Linked DNA regions of Homo sapiens: region 2 is linked to region 1. The links come from fine-mapping of genetic effects on gene expression. A gene starts in region 1. The other region holds a variant in brackets. All regions are shown on one strand. Distances are from middle to middle.

The links.
Region 2: its variant is fine-mapped to the expression of SWAP70 in blood mononuclear cells (TOPMed, PIP 0.99).

What each region holds. Positions count from the first base shown.
Region 1 is chr11:9,662,464-9,665,371 of GRCh38, reverse strand. SWAP70 (switching B cell complex subunit SWAP70) reads right to left here and starts at 1,295. Exons shown (of 12, transcript NM_015055.4): 1 at 1,094-1,295. The coding sequence starts at 1,192. RefSeq lists enhancers at 688-807, 1,918-2,117 and a silencer at 948-1,447.
Region 2 is chr11:9,739,894-9,742,801 of GRCh38, reverse strand. It overlaps SWAP70 (switching B cell complex subunit SWAP70), which reads right to left. Exons shown (of 12, transcript NM_015055.4): 9 at 2,455-2,621. Among named protein-coding and RNA genes, the nearest start is that of SBF2-AS1, 17 kb to the left of the region's middle. RefSeq lists an enhancer at 2,227-2,346. The variant T/G (reference allele first, on the strand shown) is at 1,255.

The DNA of each region.
Region 1 (2,908 bases):
TCTCCATGGACCCTTCCAGACTATGATTCTATCAGTGAGAAAAAGAAAGGAGAGGCAAAAGGAAGACAAGGAGAATGTTAAGTCCTACTGGCATAAAAGCCACTACTCAGAAGAACGGGATTACTGTACAAAAATATACAAAACAAACCCAATCTTCAGAATTTATTCCCAGAAGGGGCTAAGAAAACCGGACATTCGGATCTAAAATATGTATATTTTTAAATGCCTATGAATAGCTTTTCTTGTCTGTTTCTATATTTTTTTACTTTGAAGAAGCTGCCAATTTCTGCTGGCTTAATGCCAATTTCGCTGCTTGGGGTTACTCAATTTACAAGCATCCCTTTATTTATACCCTATACTCTAGGGTCTCCGGCAGTCACAATAACGACTCTGAAAAAGCAGTCGCTTTTGCAGGGTGCCAGAAAGATCAGCGCTCCTCACCCGGAACTAAGGTCCCTGTGGGACACAGTACACCCCGTCCACTAGTTCCAAACTTAAAAGACGCTGGGCGGAAGGTCTTCCCAAGTCAAAAAGCCTCCCAAAGGAGAAGGACCCTGGAGGCCGGGCTTCGGGGCATTTCTGCGTCTCCGGACTGCCCTGTCGCCTCCGGGGCAGCTAGCCGTTTTGAGGACTGTCCTGGTGTGGGGCTGTGGGCTGCAGAAGGTTCTGCCCAGCGACCTTGGGCAAGTCCCTTCCTCTCCTGGAGTAAGAGGAAAATTCTGGGAAGGCTGTGTAAGGGAGCTTCCCATTGCCGCCTCAGAATCCACTTTCTGCCCCCCGCTCTCCAACGCCAAGAAGGAATCACACTTGGCCCTCCAGACTTCACCCCAGCCTTATGCCCGCCACCCTTCCCAGTCCCTGGGAGACCCGCGGGAACTAACACATCCAACCGAGGGCATGGCCCGAAGGCAAGGGGGAGGCAGTAAACACCAAATCCCGGTCTCAGACCCACTCCGCCCCAAGCGGGCCTACCGGGCGCATTCCGACCCGCCCCGCCCTGCGGTCACGGCCCGCCAGGTCCCGCTTCCACCCAAGGGAAGTACAGAGCGCGCCGGGGAGGGTCGGGTGGGGGGCCGGGTCAGGAGGCGCCCACCTTGAGCTGGGACTTGGAGACCTTGCCGCTGTGGTCCTGGTCGAGTGCGGTGAAGGCGTGCCAGATGGCTTTGAGCAGCTCCTCCTTCAAGCTCCCCATGGCCGCGGCCCTGCTGCCCCGCCAACCCCTCCTGCCCAGCCAGCCCCTCCGCGCCTCGGACGCCCCTCAACCTCCGCAGCCACAGCCCGCCGCGCAGTCACCTGACCCGCCAGGCCCCGCCCCCGCCAGGCCCCGCCCTGCTGCCGGCGCCGGTCCAGTGCCGCGCCCACAGCCGCCAGAGTGTGGGTTCTGCGAGTCAAGCCACGCCTGGTGGCAAGAATGCTTGGCCTTCAGTGTCAGCCAGGACGGTAAACACATCTCCCTAATGTTTCCCAGACCAGTTCGGGCCATTTTGGGTGCTCGAGTACAACACCTCACACAAATGACCGCGTCTTGAGGAAAAACCCGAGAGATTAGGTGAGCAGCCTACCCGCCTCCTCCCAGCGCCCCGCAGTGAAAAAGGGATCCCTGGTCCTGTCCTGGGAACGGAGTCACTGTCTGAGAAGGCCAGAGAAGACCCCGAAAAGTCCCCAGACCAGGACTGAAATGATAGCGCAGTCCCAAGTCGGGGAGATGCAGGGCGGCGGGGAGGCAGGAAGGACCTCGAGGGAAGTTTGTTGGTTCATTTCGCAAAAGTTTATTCATGCATACTCTATCTTGGGTTCTAGGGACACAGCGACGACGTTTAAGGGGAGTTTAGAAGTCAGGGTCAGGCAGCATTTTCTTCCTAACGCCTAGCTGTTGTTCAATTCACATCTTAGGAGGGGTTTGACCTGGGTAATACCTCTCTGTAGTGTTTCTCTGCTTGCAGAATAGGAGATCTGGGCCAATTCCAAATCACTCCACCCATTTTACTAATCCAAAGAGATGGACCATTTAAAAGAACGTATTCGGCCAGGCGTGGTGGCTCACGCCTGTAATCCCAGCCCTTTGGGAGGCCAAGGCGGGCGGATCACCTGAGGTCGGGGGTTCGAGACCAGCCTGACCAACATGAAGAAACCCCGTCTCTACTAAAAATACAAAATTAGCCGGGCGTGGTGGCACATGCCTGTAATCTCAGCTACTCGGGAGGCTGAGGCAGGAGAATCGCTTGAACCCGGTAGGCGGAGGTTGCAGTGAACCAAGATCGCGCCATTGCACTCCAGCCTGGGCAACAAGAGTGAAACTCCGTCTCAAAAAAAAAAAAAAAAGTATTCGATTGCAGCTGTTGAATTAATATCTGTTCGCGGTGGTCACAATGGTCACTTGATCTCTTTGGGCTTCAAATTATCCCGTATAAAAAGAGCAGGGTTGCACCAGATGTTCTGGAAGGGTTCTTGCAGTACTAGCATCCTAGGATAATAACTATTGCCGGTTAACTAAGGTCTGATTAAATCGCCAGGCTCAGTACCTCTCCTCTCCAATCCTGGACTAATTGGAGAGAACAATAAACACCAAGAGTTTTTAAAATGAGGTGGTTCTCAGATGAAGTTTGGTTTTGTTTTGCTTTTTTAAGTTCCTTAATGCACATGTTTGCCTTATTAAGAAAGGAAAAGATCTTCATAAGAAAGGGATATTTGGAAAGAGAAGAACAAGAAGGAGCCTCTTCAGTGAGTTTGAGATCAAAAAGGAACTGGTGGGGAAGAGGAGAGGATGGCCCCACTGACGAAAGAAGGGGCAGGAGCAAAAGGGTGGCCAGCCCCTCACTGTGACTGTCCTGAAGGTTCTACCCCATTTCATCACCATTTGTCAGGACTTTTCTTGCCCTACCAGAATCCAATTTCTATCATTTATCTT
Region 2 (2,908 bases), 77 kb before region 1:
ACCCAACTCCAGGATGACTTCCCTTGATTTTTCTATCCAGAAAGGCCTATCCTGAGGAGCAAAGAACAAACCCTCTCTGCCAATCTGACAGAAAGTCCCTCTGAATCAGCCACAGCCTTCAGTGACTTCAGGAAAGAGGAACACATTTCACTTAAAAATGACCACTAGGCCGGGCGTGGTGGCTCATGCCTGTAATCCCAGCACTTTGGGAGACCGAGACAGGCGGATCACAAGGTCAGGAGATGGAGTCCATCCTGGCCAACATGGCAAAACCCCATCTCTACTAAAAATACAAAAATTAGCCAGGTGTGGTGGTGCGCGCCTGTACTCCCAGCTACTCGGGAGGCTGAGGCAGGAGAGTCGCTTGAACCCAGGAGGCGGAGATTGCAGTGAGCCGAGATCACGCCACTGCACTCCAGCCTGATAACAGAGCAAGACTCCATCTCAGAAAAAAAAAGGGAGCAGGGGGGCAAATTTGTCCATTTCAGGTTCCAAAAACTAAGAGAAAAAAAAATTTAGAATAATAAAATAATTATATTCATAAAATGCCCTTTGCACATTAAGAAAAAGTTAAATTTGTGTGCAGTACTTTCAGCATATTGGATCAGAGCTGTATGTAGAAGTTACATCTGGATTCAAAAGGTTGAAACCATTTTGCTATTGCTTAAATCAGAGTGTGCAAAATAATTAGCTGGAGTTTTTTGCCGTTGTTGTTTTGTGTTTTTTTTGAGACAGGGTCTCATTCTGTCCCCCAGGCTGTAGTACAGTGGTGCAAATGCAGCTCACTGCAGCCTCAACCTCCTGGACTCAAGTGATCCTCCTGCCTCAGCCTCCCAAGTAGACTTTTTTTTTTTTTTTTTTTTAAAGATGAGGTTTCACCATGTTGCTCAGGCTGGTCATAAACTCCTGGGTTCAAGTGATCCTCCAGCCTCGGCCTCCCAAAGTGTGGTGGGTGAGCCACACTTTGTGGTGTATTTTTCAGAAGCTTTGTGAGGTGATTCTGATACATAACATTGGTTAAAAAACCACTGGCTTCAATTATCCAAAATTATCCCTTATTCAAAATATCACTCATTCTATAAACACTAAATAACTAAGACTAGTATTTCTAGAATTATCTGGTTCCCTCTGTGATCTAGTCTCTGCTGTGTCATAATCAACTTCCCACAAAACTGCAGTAATACATATAGCATATTTCACCTGCGAATTCTTTGCACAAAAACAATCTATTAACTCTCAACACGGCTCAAATTA[T/G]GAGGTGGCTCAAAAAATGTTGAGTGTCATGTAGAACGTCACTCTGGACGTCACATGGCACTCAAACATTCCCGTAGAGTGACTCTTCTGCTAAAATCACTGCCGAGTGGCACTGGAGGGGAGTTCCAAGAACCTGATTAACCTCACAGTGCAGTGAATGTGCACCTGTGGGGCCTATATATGCCTGGCAATATGCTACATGCTTAATTTTCTATTTAGAAAATAATTTTTCCTTAAAAAAATTTAAATTTAAAATCTAAATGTCCAAAACAATTTATTTATTTTTGAAGTCACTTTTGGCAAAATATACAACTAAAGATGGCTTCTTCTTTCTCTTCCTATCTAAAGATTAAAGAAACATCTTTTGCTGCTCCACATGTAAAATGGCAGCCATGGAAAATCTACCCTAGCTCATCTCATAACTGCTCCCCAAAACAGGGGGTCAGAGATCAAAGACTGGACCCTGTGCTGCTACTGTAGTGAATACTTTTTAGTGTTGTCTCCCATCCCAGACACCTTAAATAATGTAAATGGGGCAGCAAAGTAGAAACTGGCAGAGGATAGGCTCAATTTTTCCCTTTGGGAGTCTTCATTTTATTTTGTCCTCCCTGCTGCCATGAAGGCCCAAAATTGAGAATTTTCATCTGCGAACATGACTATCATAAAGTTCTAAGGGGAAAAAAAATCTAGGTTTCAAATACTTTTAAAATTAGGATTTCAAGTAGTAATTACTGAAGGAATGTTACCAATCCTGAATGACCAAATAGAAACTGCATATTTCTTCCTTATTCCTCAAAACCTGACGGCAACGTTGGCCTGAACAGGCCTCTGCCTGCATACCAATGGCCCTCTCTGGTCTGGAGCGTGTTGAAGATGCCAAGCTCTTATCAGAGGTAATTCTGGGTTTGTGGATTTTCTCGAATAAGACTAAGGGTACCTCATCAAACATACCTACCAGACTGCTCTAAAATAGGCCCTTATTTAGCCCCAGAAGCAAGGGTTTCCCAGCGCCTCAGAATGAAAAGAAACACTCCAGCCGGTCGAGTCTCCACAGTCTTTCTAATCTGGACAGCACCTCGAGCTCAGTCACAGCCAGAGCAGAGACACTTCTCCCTCTCCACCAGAGTGTTAGTCATTCCAAGAAACTGTATTAGCCCAGGCAAAGTACATAAAGGCAAAGTCTGCAAACAAATCTGGCACCTGGCCTGAAGCTTCCGCACTGTCTCTTCATCTTGCCGGGCCTGTCTCTCATCTTCAAGAGCCTCCTGCAGCTTTAGGTACATGTCTTCCAGCTCCCGTACTCGCTGTAAATACTGTTCCAGTTCAGAGGACTTTTGAGCAACCTGTTCTTCCATCTGCTGTCTGATCTGTTGGTATAAAAGGGTCTTGTTTAAATGCAGGTTGACTTCTTTCTCAGGGAAAGCCTCACCTCCACCTGAGGGGTTGCCCACAGCTGCAGCCTCAGCCCATCAGGGTGGCAGGACCCTGTCCTTCAATCCTTGAACTTAAAGATGGAGGAGATGAGGGTACCACACCCAATCGCAATAGTGAAAGAGTCTGGGAAGAGCAAATTATAACCCAAATTATGTTCTGCCCTGCTGTATTTTCCATCCCTTCCACTCCACATTTTAAGACTCAAGTCAAGAAAAAAATG